2 linked regions of the Homo sapiens genome follow. The protein of the gene in region 1 purifies or fractionates together with the protein of each later gene. This does not show direct contact. Each region holds a gene or a part of one and is shown on either strand. Other genes may lie near its edges. The genes, in order: CKAP2 and KIF22.

Evidence for each region.
Region 2: the proteins of CKAP2 (region 1) and KIF22 purify together in Homo sapiens (affinity purification with mass spectrometry; 2 studies listed by BioGRID and IntAct, with this or other methods). This does not show direct contact.

The regions. Positions count from the first base shown.
Region 1 is NC_000013.11:52,450,615-52,458,494, forward strand, and holds the start of CKAP2 (cytoskeleton-associated protein 2), read left to right. Parts: upstream 1-4,863; 5' UTR 4,864-4,942; coding exon 4,943-5,012; intron 5,013-5,373; exon of another isoform or gene 5,374-5,565; intron 5,566-5,908; coding exon 5,909-5,993; intron 5,994-7,880. UniProt on the Homo sapiens protein: Possesses microtubule stabilizing properties. Involved in regulating aneuploidy, cell cycling, and cell death in a p53/TP53-dependent manner.
Region 2 is NC_000016.10:29,793,505-29,801,027, reverse strand, and holds part of KIF22 (kinesin-like protein KIF22), read right to left. Parts: intron 4,136-7,523; coding exon 3,940-4,135; intron 2,655-3,939; coding exon 2,527-2,654; intron 2,436-2,526; coding exon 2,281-2,435; intron 2,054-2,280; coding exon 1,844-2,053; intron 1,765-1,843; coding exon 1,534-1,764; intron 1,401-1,533; coding exon 1,247-1,400; intron 1,116-1,246; coding exon 980-1,115; intron 855-979; coding exon of another isoform or gene 806-854; exon of another isoform or gene 226-805; intron 1-225. UniProt on the Homo sapiens protein: Kinesin family member that is involved in spindle formation and the movements of chromosomes during mitosis and meiosis. Binds to microtubules and to DNA. Plays a role in congression of laterally attached chromosomes in NDC80-depleted cells.

The sequences.
Region 1 (7,880 bases):
GGCCCTCCGAGGCCGCGAGCAGCGCGCCAGGCAGCCTGCGGCGCCCCCTAGCGTCGGACGGGACGGAAGCGAGTCGGGGCGGGTGAGGGACGGAGGGAGCGGCCTGGCAGCGAGCGGGCGCGGCTGCGAGGTGCGCCCGGGGACGTGGAGACGTGCGTGGAGCGCCCCCTGGCGGTCCATTAGCCGCCGGCCTTTCAGAACCCTTGATCAGCAGGCGGTCCACCCCATTCTAAATTCAGAGCTTACAGGGACGCGAGGGAGCCCCGACCACAGCTTGGACTTGCTTATTGTGCATTATGCCTGCATGTTTGTGGCAGTTTTCTTGTCAGTGCCCAGAATGTTGCTACATTCGCTAATGATTGTAAATAATCATAACCCCTCTCTTTCAAATGAATATTTATGGCACGCATTGTTTCTGTACAGCTGCAGTCAGTACTACCTGTGCTGCTCTTTTTTTCCCTTTAAGATTATATTGTAACACAAAGGATAAATGCTTGAGGTAACGGATACCTCATTTACCCTGATGTGATTATTATACAGTGTATGCCTGTATCAAAATATCCCATATACCCCAGAAATATATACACCTATGTACCCACACAAATTAATTTTTTTTTAACTGGGGGAAACAGATTTTATTTAACCGGGCTTGATGCGCGCGCCTGTATTCCCAGCTGCTTCCGAAGCTGAGGCGGGAGGATTGCTTGAACCCAGGAGTTTGACACCAGTGGGCGACATAGAAAGACCCTTTCCCCCTCCACCCCAACTCCCCCACGCCACTCCACTCCCCCACCCCCAGGCTCAGAAAAAAAAGATTATTTTTATTTAGGCATTTTCAATATTAATACAGACCTCATGCGTGAATTTACATTTCAATATGTAGTTCCTCTATAATTTAGCTGTTTGTTGGTCTGCGCAAAGCCATCCATGGCCGCTGCTCTCACCCACCAGGCGGCCTCGTGCCCCTAGCCATTTCATTTTTGTATTTTGCTTTATAAATGGAACACCTGGCCGGGCGCGGTGGCTCACGTTTGTAATCCCAGCACTTTGGGAGGACAAGGCGGGCGGATCACAAGTCAGGAGTTCGAGACCAGCCTGGCTAACATAGAGAAACCCTGTCTCTACTAAAAATACAAAAAATTAGCCCGGCGTGGTGGCGGGTGCCTGTAATCCCAGCTACTCGGGAAGCTGAGGCAAGAGAATCGCTTGAACCCTGGAGGTAGAGGTTGCAGTGAGCCGAGATCGCACCATTGCACTCCAGTCTGAGCGACAGAACGAGACTCTGCTTCAAAAATAATAATAATAAATAATAAATAAATAAATAAATGGAGCAGCTTATAGATGTCCTTCTACAATTGATACATATTTTTCTCTTTAGGATTATTTTCTTACAGTGTCTTCCTAAAATAGAATGACTGCTTTAAAGGTTGTGAACACATTTTAGAGAGCCTACCACTTATTGGGGTCTTAACTAAGGCTGCGTGCCCACGTGGGCAGAGGGGCACAGGGGCAGAGGGACAGAGGGCAGGCTTGCTCTCTGCCCCCAGGGCTCCACATTTCCCCCAGTCGTGGAGTCAGTGGTCTGTGGCTAGGCATTAAAAGAAAGGAAAGGCTCTTTCCAATGAGTATAAGCCATCTCTCCCCCGAAATGAATTGCTACTTTTACCGTGTTCCAAAATCCTGTGTGTATTTTGGTCTATTTCTAAACAGTGTCTTCTGTATTTCATATCTTTCAATTTCCATCATGACCATATACCCAATAACCAAAAGTTCTTTGAAAACATTTGATTTGCTGTAATATGCTATCAATATATATCACAATTTACCATCATTGCCTGATTTTTGAGCATTTGATTGTTTACCAACTTTTTAGTCTTTTTTAATTGAAAGTAATGTGACCTAAGCATCCTAATCAGATGTGGAACTGTGCAGTTATGCCTGGGCTTTGCAATTATCAACATGTTAGGCAGTGAGGACATTTGCAAGGTATGTTTTCTGCCCTTGAGGGATGTACAGTCTGTAGGACACAAATAGAAGCCTGGCATATGATAGCTGCTGGGATAGACAACCGTATAAGGGTTTCCTGTATCCAGGCTGGAGCAAGGAGAAACGTCATGTGGCTTATATATGGCAATAAATGAATAGACAAAAGGTTTTAATTTTTATGAAGTTCAGTGTATTTTTTTCTTTCATAGTTCATGGAATTTGCCTATTTAAGAAATCTTTTTTCCACAAACCAGATATTGATACTGATTATGAAATCTTTGCCTAACACAAAGTCACTAAGATTTTCTCCTATAATTTCTTCTAGAAGCTTCATAGTTTTGGTTCTTACATTTAGGTCTATGCTTTTTTTTTTTGAGACAGAGTCTCACTCTGCCGCCCAGGCTGGAGTGCAATGGCACAATCTCGGCTCACTGCAACCACTGACTCCTGGGTTCAAGCGATTCTCCTGCCTCAGCCTCCCGAGTAGCTGGGATTACAGGTGCCTGCCACCACGCCTGGCTAACTTTTGTATATTTTGTAGAGACAGGGTTTCACCATGTTGGCAAAGCTGGTCTTGAACTCCTGACCTCAGGTGATCCACCCGCCTTGGCCTCCCAAAGTGCTGGGATTACGGGCATGAGCCACCACGCCCAGCCATCCCCAGGATGTTTTTGCCAGGACCTCCCACCTTCTGAATCAGATGGTTCCTTTCAGTCCCAATCCTACTGGACCTCTGTAGTGCCCAACACTGTGGTCCATTACCTCTTTCTTCAGCTTCTCTCTTCCCCAGACTTTGTGACCCCATTGTGTCCCCATTGTCCTCCTAACTTTCAGATTGTCCTTCCCTGTTCTCTCACAGGCACTTTACCTTCTTCACATGACCACAGGAGGAACGACTAACACTAATTAATCATCAGTACTCCAGGTGCCTGCAGTTTCATGGTCAGCTGTGTTGGCAAAGAACTGTTCTGAAAGGAAATCTTTTTTGTTTTGTTTTTTTTGTTTGTTTTTTGGATCTTTTAGAAAAAGGTCTGCTTTCTCTGCAATAATTGTGTAGCAGTAATATTAAAAAGTGTCTCAAAAATAGACATATCATTGGAGTGGGTGAGTCTGGAGATTAGAGGAGAATTGCCATTTTGAAAAACCTAGCAGTTTGGCAGGTTTTCCTATTCATCTCAGCCTACTGAGATCTCCATGGTATCCTTTGAGTCAATTTCTTTTTTTACCATGCCCACTTATAAAAAATTATTGAGGTTCACATAACATAAAATTAATCATTTTAAAGTGAACAACTCAATGGCATTAATACATTTACAATGTCACCCAACCACTACCTCTAATTCCAAAACATTTCACTTACTTCAAGGTAATGAAACCCTTGTCCATTAAACTGTCTCCCAATTCTCCCCCTACCCTCAGCCTCTGGCAACTACTATTCTGAGTTATTTCACTATGGATGTATCTATTTTAGATCTTTCATATAAATGGAATCATACCATATGTAACTTTTCATATATTACTTCTTTTACTTAGCATAATGTTTTGGAGGTTTTTGAGTCACTTATTAACGCTGTATTTTGTTCTCACTTAATAGAAATCCCTGGTTGCCCCACCTGTCTGATGAAACTTTAGTAAATAATCAACAATAATGACAGACGTATTTAAACAGCAAGTTATATCTTAAGGATGGTGATGGACAATGTTAAACTAAAACTGGGACATTTCATCAAGTAAAAAACTACACAAAATCTCAAACCAAATTCCTCATTAGCAAGACGCTACCATAAGATGTCTGAAGAAAAAAGCAGGCAGAAGTGGGAAAAACTGACCACAGCCGAGGGCCAGCTGTGGAGGCCCTCAGACCTGGGAAGGGTAAACGGGGAAATCACATCCTCCCGTCTGTGTGCCCGGAGCACCTAAAACCTGGCTGAAAGAGTCCAGTCCAGCCTTACTGCAGTGATCAGGCAAGAAATGTAAACCCAGTGCTTGAAACCAGGCAGGTGCAGTCCAGACTCGCCCTCACTTCCCCACTGCCACTCTTAAAACCTTCTAGCCCTGACTTGTTTCGTTCTGTCATGTGGATTGAGTGTTTGTGTGGGTTTTATGAAGGTGGTATTTTTAGATGAGAAAAACGAAGATTATGGCGGCACACTTAACCACACAAACACAAAACGTCTGTAACAAATGCTATTTTATCTTCAAAGGAGAATTATATATAACCTTGAGGAGGGGATGAGGTTTATCTTCATTTTTTTCTGTTTCTCCTCCTCTCCTCCCTTTTTTGCATTTGATAATTGCTTAGAATAAAGGTATGGAAAGTAGATCCCAATTTCAGTTCCCCTTCACACGCTGTGCAAACGTGGACAAACAACCTCTGAACCTGTCACCTCTCAGTGGAAAAAGTGGTGATAACGTCCCACCTCAGAATTGATGCTCAAAATGAAGCAGTATTTGTGAAACGAAAATACACACGCTCGTGGTACGCCAGATCGGTGTTTACGTCCTCGTCAGTGAACGCGTCGATGTTTAATAAGAAGGGCAGCCAATCAACACTTTTCTTGTCTTTTTCTCGTCTGCCTTCCTCCAAGGACTGTGAGGGTCTCAAGATGTGTCCCATCTCGGTTGTTTGTCAACCTAGTCCTGCTATGTCGTGGGGACTGAGCAGGCCGACTCCTCCCCCATCGCACGTCCAGGATGAAGAGCGCTGTTTAGGTTTGAAACCTGCAGACTCAGTCCCAACCGAACTGGGCAGACACCAGACCGGCCCCGGCAACTGCAGTCCAGGCTCCGCCTCCCTACGCCCATTGGCTTATTCAATTCACGCAGGAACCAATGGGCGGAGACGGCAGCCGCGCCGTCTGACGGCTTAGCCGCGGTGCAGACTGCGGCGGCGGTGGTCTGAGGAAGTTCTATCTTGGCGCTAAAGCGGAGACGCATCCCCCGACCCGAGGCTACGATGAGCACACCGGCCGTGCCCCAGGACCTGCAGCTGCCCCCGAGTCAGAGGGCGCAGTCCGCATTCAAAGGTGAAGGCCGCGGTGGCGGTGGCGGTGGCGGTGGCGGTGGCGGTGGCGGGCGCGGGCCCGGCGGTCGGGGCTCGGGGCCGCGCTGGCGCGCTTCACCTCTCCCCCGCTCTGTGAGATCCCTGAACGCGGCGTCGGCCTCGCCCTGCCTCATTCTTGGCCTTGTGGAACGGATCATAAAAACAGGAACCGCTGCGTGGTGTTACTGTGCGGTCGCTGCTGGCTGGGATGGGCCCTCCTAAGAAGGAATCCGTTAGGCGAGGGGAAACGCGCGGGCCTCAGGCCGGGGTCGGTGTCGGAGACCCTGGGTCCGCTTGGGGGCGGGGCTGCACAGGTTCAGGGACCGACTGCGCCTGCGCTGGGTCCTCCGCCTCTTAGGTCCCTAGCGAATTTCTGCAGGGCTGGGGTCGCATCATGTGTTATTTCCAATTTCACAGCTTCTCCTTCGACTTTATGGAAACCGAGGGTTGGTTGGGTCTTCAAAACTAATATTGTTATTCCCTTATTCTACACACGGGAAAGCAGAAGAAAGTAATTCTCATCTAACCCAGTTCTGGTAAATTAGAACTTTCGAGTCTAGTGCCTCACTTCTACCATTTAGTTTCTTAAAGCTTGGCTAGCAGGAGCTGTATGTAGAAAATGATGTTCTCCAGATTTTTCACAGGGAGTAGAGAATGTGATTCTTATGCAGAGGGGTTTTGGGGACCTGTTGTGGTAACAGTCTCTTCTAAGGTGATTTCTCAAAGGCAATATTGAATTGGAGAATTTTCTGTTATATAGATGTGACCTCAGGTGGAACCAGCTTTGGAAGTAAACTCTTCATTTAGTCAACAAGATTTATTTGCCGTTATCGATGTTTTAACTAATATTGACTTGTAGCTCTTACCTTTGTTATCTAGAGCAAAGAAGACAAAAACTCAAGGAACATCTGTTGAGAAGAAAAACGCTTTTTGCATACAAGCAGGAAAATGAGATGTTATCCAGGTAAGGTCAAGTTTATTTCTTTTCACTTCTGTAAAATTGTATCAGATCTGTCCAATGAAAATGTAAAGTAAGCCATATCTGTAATTTTAAATTTTCTAGTAGCCACATTTAGAAAAACTGCTTACATATTATTTTACGTCTTTTTGTGGTACAACGTCTTTAAAATCTGGTGTCTATTTTACAGTTACAGGACATTTCCATTTGGTCTATCCACATTTCAAGCACTCAGTAGCCACATTGGCTAGTGGCTACTTTATTGGATGGTGCAGCATTAGATCATCGTTTTATTAATTTTTTTTTTTTTGAGACAGAGTCTCACTCTGTTGCCAGGTTGGAGTGCAGTAGCGTGATCTTGGCTCACTGCAGCCTCCACCTTCTGGGTTCAAGTGAATCTCCTGCCTCAGCTTCCCAAATACCTGGGACTGACTACAGGCAAGTGCCACCATTCCCTGCTAATTTTTGTATTTTAAACAGAGACCGGGTTTCACTATGTTGGCCGGGCTGGTCTTGGACTCCTGACCTTGAGATCCGCCCACCTCAGCCTCTGAAAGTGCTGTGATTACAAGGATGAGCCACCGCGCCCGGCCTAGATTATCGTTTTCTACGTAAATTAATTCACAGTCTAAGAGAAAAAAACAATTATAAAGCAAAGTATGTGCATAGACTAGATTATCAACTTACTGTTTACACCACACAAAGGTCAGTCTTTCTATTATTTAGCAAAGCTTTTTACTCAGTGTATGGGGGAGTTCATCAGGGAAGGGTTGGGTGGCCCTCCCAAATGCTTAGAGATTACTAGTTGTAGTCTCAACCCTCCACAGAAATATCTTTATTATTTTGTTAAAATATCTTAGATAGTACATAGCTGTAGCAAAAACAAAAACCCATGAAAGTAGATGAAGCAGAAAGGCAAAAGGTCCCCTCACTCTCTAGGGATAACCAGTAATAACATCCTTACAGGCTTAGGCTGGGTGCTGTGGCTTACACCTGTAATCCCAGCACTTTAGGAGGCTGAGGTGGGCAGATCACGAGGTCAGGAGATCAAGACCAGCCTGGCTAACACAGTGAAACCCCGTCTCTACTAAAAATACAAAAAATTAGCCAGGCATGGTGGTGGGTGCTTGTAATCCCAGCTACTGGGGAGGCTGAGGCAGGAGAATCGCTTGAACCTGGGAGATGGAGGTTGCAGTGAGCCGAGATCGTGCCATTGCACTCCAGCCTGGGTGACAGAGCGAGACTCCGTCTCAAAAAAAAAAAAAATTGTCTCAGGTAAACAAAATTGTATATACCACCCACACACATATTCAGAGAGTGGAAATGATAACGCAAATGGGATAAAAATTTTAACAATAGGTGGATCCTGGGTAAAGAGTGTACAGATATTCTTTGACCTGTTTATATTTTTGCAACTTTGTGTAAGTTTGGCATTCTAAAATTTTAAAAATAATTTCTAACTTTATATTAATAAGTTGCTTTAGTTTGGAATAAACAGTTTATCCTTCACAAATAAATCTTTTATTTCTTTGTTTAAGACAAAAAGGTGATCCTAGGTTTTTTATTTGAATAAGTAAATGAATGGTGATAACCGTATACTGAAATAGGAAGCCTGAAGGAGGAGCTGGGGAATTAGGAGTTCTGTTTTGACTATGTTTGAGGTACCAACCAGACATCCAAGCAGATATGCCAAATAATTGTGTGTCTGAAGTTCAGGGGAGGGGTTGGGGCTGGAAGCATAAACTCAGGAATTGATTAGTATACAGATGATATTTACTTAAAAACCTTAGGATGGAATGAAATTACTAGGGAATAAGTAGAGATAATATGGATTCAGACAGTGACTCTCAACCACTTATTTAAATAAAGAATCCAACAAGGTCAGGGGTTTAT
Region 2 (7,523 bases), on another chromosome or scaffold:
TTTGCTTTGCTCTCATGGATCTGAAAGATCTGATCCAGATCACTCCTTGAACCAGAAGCAAAAATGCTCATCCTTGAAACAGCTGTCCCAAAGTGAGAAGTTTTGCTGAAGGCTAAAGGGGTTGGAAAATGGAAAGGATCCCCAGGAGGAGGCCTCCTTAGGTCCCCAAGGCAGCAGCACTGAGGAGAGATTAATCTTAGACTTTAGTGATTCAATGGAGTAGAATTTGGGGGGAATTTATTTATTTACTTATTTATTTATTGAGATGCAGTCTTGCTCTGTCACCTAGGCTGGAGTGCAGTGGCATGATCTTGGCTCACTGCAACTTTCACCTCCCAGATTCAAGCAATTCTTCCTGCCTCAGCCTCCTGAGTAGCTGGGATTACAGGTGCCCACTACCATGCCTGGCTAATTTTTGTATTTTTAGTAGAGATGGGGTTTCACCATGTTGGCCAGGCTGGTCTTGAACTCCTGACCTCAGGTGATCCACCCGTCTTGGCCTCCCAAAGTGCTGGGATTACAGGCGTGAGCCACCGTGCCTAGCCAGGGTTGAATTCACTTATTTACTTTGAGACGGAGTCTTGCTGTGTCGCCCAGGCTGGAGTGCAATGGCCACAATCTCAGCTCACTGCAACCTCTGCTTCCTGGGTTCAAGGGATTCTCCTGCCTCAGCCTCCCAAGTAGCTGGGATTACAGGCACATGCCACCACATCCGGCTACTTTTTGTATTTTTTAGTAGAGATGAGGTTTCACCATGTTGGCCAGGCTGGTCTCGAACTCCTGACCTCAGGTGATCCACCCAACCTCAGTCTCCCAAAGTGCTGGGGTTACAGGAGTGAGCCACCGCATCCGGCCTAGGGTGAATTTAATGGGAGAGGAACAAGATCACAGCTCTCTGCTCAAGGATCTGACGGGCATTGCAGCTCTGCTGCTAAGCCATACATCAGGAAGGGGATACACCCAAGGCCCCACTGCTCACCTGAGTTTCTGGGAGGCAGAGGCTGGAGCTGCCATGGGCTCAGGGCTCCCGATCTCCTCTTCCTCAGGGCCTCGGGCTCTCTTTGCCTCTGGTGGACCAAGCAATTCTTTCTGAGACAGCTTAACAGGTCCCAAGGCTAGATGATTGGAGGATGGGGTGGAGAGAGGGATTGGGGGTGGTCAGCCTCTGTGCTGATGCTTGGTGGTTTCAACAAACTCCCTAATTTCCAGACCCAGCGTTTCCACTCCTGCCTCCCCCAGTTCTCACCATGAGGCTGCAGGCTCTCATTGGTAAAAGGCCGATTGATCACCTCCTTGGACCTGGCAGCAAAGTTGAGTGCGGAGACTGTGTCTAGGTAGAAGCGTCTCTCAGGGGCAATGTTGGCAATAAGGATACTGTGGGCTGAGCCACCCAGAGAGTCCTGAGGGTGAGACCAGGCAGTGGGTGGGTCAGAAGCCCAGCCTTCCTATGCCTCAACTGCTATTCCCCACCCCACAGCAGGCCTGAGAACCTCCTTCTGCAGCCCCTTCTTCCCTGAGACAGGTGGGCCTGACCTGCAATAGGCGAGTGAGCTTGCTGTCCCGATAAGGTACACGAGGGAGGCCCTGATTCAGCGCATCTACCACTTTGCCCAGGACAAACAGGGAGGTGTTGATGGCTCCACTCTCTTTTAGCCGAAGGCCCTTGTTGCCTGTGCGCCGGTTGTCCTCTGACCCAGCCAAGTCAATCAGGTAGAGTTTTCCCTCTCGCTGGCGAAATGGGGCCAAACGTTCCCGCTGGTCCACCTGGGGGTAAGAACAAAGGTCTCGTGCTTAGCTCAGGCTCCTGGGCTTCCCAGGTCCTCGCCCCTGTCTGCGGCCTCACCTTGACCAGGAGCACAGCATGACTGCGGGAGGAGCGCTGGTTGAGCCGGGTGGCTCCTACAGTCCGATTTCGACTGGCTGGCAGGAAGTGCCGCTCAAAATCAGCAAAGCTACTGATGGGCTTCTGGGAGAGACCCGGAATCAGGATATTCCCCCGGCAGTCTTCTCGGATTACCAGGTCTCCCGAAGCAGGGTCCAGGAGGTCTAATACCTGTGTAAGCAGTGAAGGGGAAGGGCAATTCTCCATAGAGAGGCTGTTTCTTCCTGGGGATCAGTTTCCTTTCTCTGTTCTATTCTCGGAGTTGTACCATCTGCTACCCCAGTCTCTGTCTTTCTAGGTCTCACCTTACCTCCCTGCTACAGCAGAGCTTCATGTTCTAGAACCAGGTCTTACTTTGACCCTTTGTTGCTCCTCTCCCAACCAGCACGGGGCCTCACCTTCTCCTGGTAGATCTCTAGGTAAGACATGGTGACAGAAAGGGCCCATGGCCGGCCCTCGGCACCCTCCTCCCTTGTGAGCTGCAGGAGGTCCATGAGAGCCCGCGGGATCACCCCAGGTTGCTCTGGGCTGCCCAGCATTGTGTGCGTCTTCCCTGGGAAGAGAGTGGAGAAAACTGTGAGGTTTTCCTCTCCGTTTCCCCAGCCCTTTCTGACCCATAGCTGTTTCTTTTCTGGCTCCCTCACCAGCTCCTGTGGGTCCATAGGCAAGCACACTGGCATTCTGCCCTTCCAGCAAGTGCCTTAGGATGGGCTGCACTGAACCTGCATAGATGTCCTGCTGAGTACTCCTCTCCCCATAGAAGGCATCAAACCTGCAGGAAGAAAGAAAGAAATTAGCGTGTGTGTGTGTGTGTGTGTGTGTGTGTGTGTGTAAGGGGTGGAGTGGGGTGGGGGTGGGTAAGGGATTCTACTCTCATCTGGACCTTGGATTTAAGAGAACGTCTCTATCCCCTTTCTTGTACAAAGACCTTAAAAAGCATCCACCTAACACCTACTCCATCCTCATCTCTCTATTGGTGTTAGGAATACAGAGATAGATCTGATATCCCTGCTCTTGGAGTTTTTCAGTCTGGTAGGATAGATATCCACACTTTGCTGTGATTTAGGAAACGAAGATAAGAACACACTCTCAAAGGAGTAACTGATTCTGCTCAAGGAAGGAAGATTTTGACCAAAGAAAGAAATTCTGAGAATCAAGAATAGCAAAAAAGCAAGGCTTCCCAGTCTTTTTCAAATGGCTACATGTGTAGAACATTGTATTTTACACCATAATGGGGAAAATAGAGGATGCTGCTTATGACTGAACTAGACTCTACATACCAATCACCTATCCACTGCGTTCTGGTGGAGAAGTGCAGCTTAGGCCACAGCAGGGAGTTTAATATATATTGAGGGAATGAGGCTGGAAAGAAACTGAAGCCCAAATTGTTAACGGCCTAGTATGGGAGCTAGCAAACTTCTGTAAAAAGGCAGATTGTACATATTTTAGGCTTTGTGGGCCATGTGTTCCTTTTACAACTACTCAACTCTGCCACTGTAGTCAGAAAGCAGCTATAGACAATATGTAAATAAACGATAAAATTTTATTTACTGAAAATCTTACTCCTGATCAGATTTGACCTGCAGGCCATGGTTTGCCAGCCCCCGCCTAGAAAAACAGGCCAAGGAGTTTGAACTTTAAATCCCCAGTAGGATTATAAAGTAGCTGCCCTTCTGAGTTCTGTCCCCAAATCTGGGTGGTCTTCTCTGACACTACCCAGCTGCAGCTTGGGTAGGCTGGCTGGCAGGTCTGTGTTCCGCCAACCCTCCTGATATGTCCCCCAGCCTCTACTTGGGGCTCACCTGCTCACCCTCATTGCTCCTCCCTCTCTGTGCACAGTAATGTATGTTTGATTCAACCTCTCATCTCTCCCTACAGTATCCCAGAGAGGGCCCATCATGGGGGCACCTGTCAACATTTCCTAAGTGAACAGTGAAGGCTCAGGGAACAAAGCGGTGCTAAGGAGGGAGCAAGGATCCTGGGGAGGCAGGGGAACGTGGGCAGGCCTAGGAGAGGGAGGTGATGGCATGAGGGAAGAGGAGTGGCCTGAACCTTACTGGTATTTGAGAGTCTCCTGGTGGTTCCTCCAGTTAGCAATCTCTAGAGAGCAGCTGTCCATGCCCCGCACACAGGGGGGATCACTTGCTCCCGCTGTTCCATCCACAAATGGCCGCAGTCGCACAGCCACCCTTACGCGAGCTGGAGGTGGACGACGAGTAGCTCCAATCTTGCTTAGCCGACAGCGACCAGCTCCTGGAGGAGAGAAGATCACTTTTAGACATGAAGTATGGTGGTAGCAGAAGAAGCAGGGACCAACTTTGCTGGGCGGGCTGGGGGCCACAGCTCATGTTGGAGAAGCTCATTCTGCCCTGGTCATGTTGTGGACACCCCTAAGCTTGGCCTCAGTGCCTTCCCTGCTCTACAAGCAAGTGCAGCAGGTGTATAGCAGGCTTCTCAGACTGTAATGTATACACAAATAACCTGGAGGATCTTGTGAAAATGTGGATTTGGTCTCCGTCTCCCTGGGGTGATGCCCGAGATTTTGCATTTCTAACAAGCTCCCAGGTGATGCTGGGCACTTAAAAAAAAAAAAGAGAGAGAGAGGGATGGAGTCTCACTAGGTTACCCAGGCTTGTCTTCAACTCCTGGGCTCCAGCGATCCTCCTACCTCAGCCTCCCAAAGTGCTGGAATTATAGGCAGGAGCCACCATGCCTGGCCCAGGACATGTTTTGAATTGCCAAGGGTGAAGTAGACCAGCACCTCACAGGGTTGTTCTAAGGATTAAAAGGGTTGACATCTGACCGAAACCTAAACCAGAGAGCGAACTGCCAGAATTTTCTGTGTGTGTGTGTGTGTGTGTTTTTTTTTTTTTTTTTGAGACAGTCTTGCTCTGTCACCCAGGCTGGAGTGCAGTGGCATGATCTCAGCTCACTGCAACCTCCACCTCCCAGGTTCAAGCGATCCTCCCACCTCAGCCTCTCGAGTAGCTGGGATTACAGGTCCCCAACACCACTCCTGGCTAGTTTTTGTATCTTCAGTAGAAACAGGGTTTCACCATGTTGGCCAGGCTGGTCTCAAATTCCTGACCTCAAGTGATCTGCCTGCCTTGGCCTCCCAAAGTGCTAGGATTATAGGTGTGAGCCACCCTGCCCAGCCTGTACCTCCATTTCTTAACTGGGGTTTCTAATATGTATTGAGACGTATGTATACTCACAGACCCACCCACCCCTGCAAACTGTTAATGATGATCTTCTCTTGATGGGGAATTATGTGGGTTCTGCAAAAACCACCGACATGCAATTCTTCTCTCATGTAAACTTAACCCTGAATTTGCTTCAGATGATTAAGTTTTTTTTGTTTTGTTTTGTTTTAGAATTGGCAACTGAATTATTTTTATCATCAGAAAACACAATGAAGATAAAACTTAAAAAAAGAAAAGCCCTCTATTTTTGTGGGGGTTAAATGAGCTGAAAATATCTAAGGAGAGTATTACTCTATTTTACGTTGGAGGATAACATACTGTAGCTCATAGTGGAATTCAAACCTAGATCTCTTCCCCTCTAAAAATCTGCTTTTAATAGGATGCTGTATTGCTTCCTTATTATGTACCAACTGGGAAAGCTCCTGGCAGCTCTTTCCCTTCCTTGCTGGTGGTAGCAGCTGGTTGCTAGGAGCCATAGGCCTCGCAGAAGGCAAAAGGCTGGCTGGTATACGTAGCCAACACAGAAACAGCAAGACGAAAAGGCAGACAGATGACCCCTACAAAGAATCTTACACCTAAGTAAGGCATGCCCATAAGCAGACGGGCTGTTTCAAAAACTGAACCTCCATTCCATCATCTGATAAATGGGGCTACTAATACCATTTCTCACGTTATGGTAGCAAAGCGCTTGGACATCTAGTTCTCATTTGTTCCTCATGGCAATCCTGAAAGTCAGGAGCAAGCAGGTAAAAACCTGCAGATGCATGTGTGCAGATAGAAAACTGAGGTGCACTGACTTGTCAAAAATATGTGCAGGACCTTCCTCTGCCTGCTTTCACAGGATGTTTTGGGAGAACAGAAAGATGGCAGATGTAGAAGCACTTAAGGAAGCGCAGTGATCAATCTAAGGGGAAGGGGAAGTCAGTAATGAGGTAGAGTGTAGACTCTGGTCAGACAGAAGTGGACTTCAATTCCAGCTCTGACATTTATTAGCTTGTGACCTTGGACCTTGGTTTCCTTGTCTGTAAAATAAGGTTGGGGGTGGGCCTTGGGCTTTTTGAGAATTTGGCCGGGCGCAGTGGTTCATGCCTGTAATCCCAGCGCTTTGGGAGGCCAAGGTGGGCAGATCACCTGAGGTCAGGAGTTCGAGACCAGCGTGGTGGTGAAACCCTGCCTCTACTAAAAATACAAAAATTAGTCAGGTATGGTGGTGGACGCCTGTAATCCCAGCTACTTGGGAGGCTGAGGCACAAGAATTGCTTGAATGCGGGAAGTGGAGGTTGCAGTGAGCAGAGATTGCGCCACTGCACTCCAGCCTGGGTGACAGAGCAAGACTGTGTCTCAGAAAAAAAAAAGATAATTGAAATAAGTGCCAGATAAAGTGGCAGCACAGTGACTAGCACATAGTAGGTAGGTTCATCATTCAAGGTAAAATGGCCTGGGTTGAAATCCCAGCTCTGCCATTTACAGCTAGCTAAGTAACCTAGGGAAATTATTTTCCATCCCAGTGCCTCAATTTCCTTACCTGCAAAATGGGAATAAAAATACCTCTTTGTTAGGTTGTTAGGAGAGTAATTAAGGTGATTCATGTAAAAGTGCTTAGAACATTATCTGGTATTTGGTGAAAGGCCAGTAAGTGCTTTTTAATGTCCGTCTCCCATTTTCCAGATGAGGAAACCTCAGTATAGAGGGGTTAGCTGACTGACCCAGGGTCAACAGCTAGTGACTGACAGCTTCAAATGAAGATCTAACTCCAAAGTGCTTTATATGAACCCTCCTCAGCCTCCTTAGCCCCTTCATCTTTGCATCTCATAAGAATGTGAGGATTCAAAGTAATAATGTACATACAATGTTTAGCACAGTGCCTGGCAGCAACTGCTCAGTCCTTAGCTGTTATTATTACACCCTTTCTCTTGCTACCCACTCCTCCATCCCTGCAACTTGCTTCTGCCCTCACTATTCAGCAGGGTCACCCATGACTTCCCTAGTGCTAGATCCAGTAGGCATACTCAGCCTCAATCCTGTTGGACCTCCCAGAAGTATGCGACACTCTTGGGAAACACACTTTTCCCTTCATTTCCATGCCCCCCACCTTCCTGGTTGTCTTACCTAGTTTTCTGTTCACTCCTCATCCTAGGATCCGTCTATCCTTTCTCTAGACCAGCATTTCTCAACTTCAGCACTACTGACATTTCGGGCTGGCTAATTCCGTTGTGGGGCTGTCCTGTGCATTTAGACTGTTAGCATATGCTTACTAGATGCCAGTAGCATTCTCCACCCTCACCCTCAAGTTGTAACAACTAAAAATCTCTCCAGACATCTCCAAATGTCCTGTGAGGGACAAAGTTGCCCCGAGCTGAGACCACTCAGATTCATTTCATAGGCAGGTCACCCGCCCTCTTGGCTTCAGTAACATCTTACAGCTGATAAGTCCTATT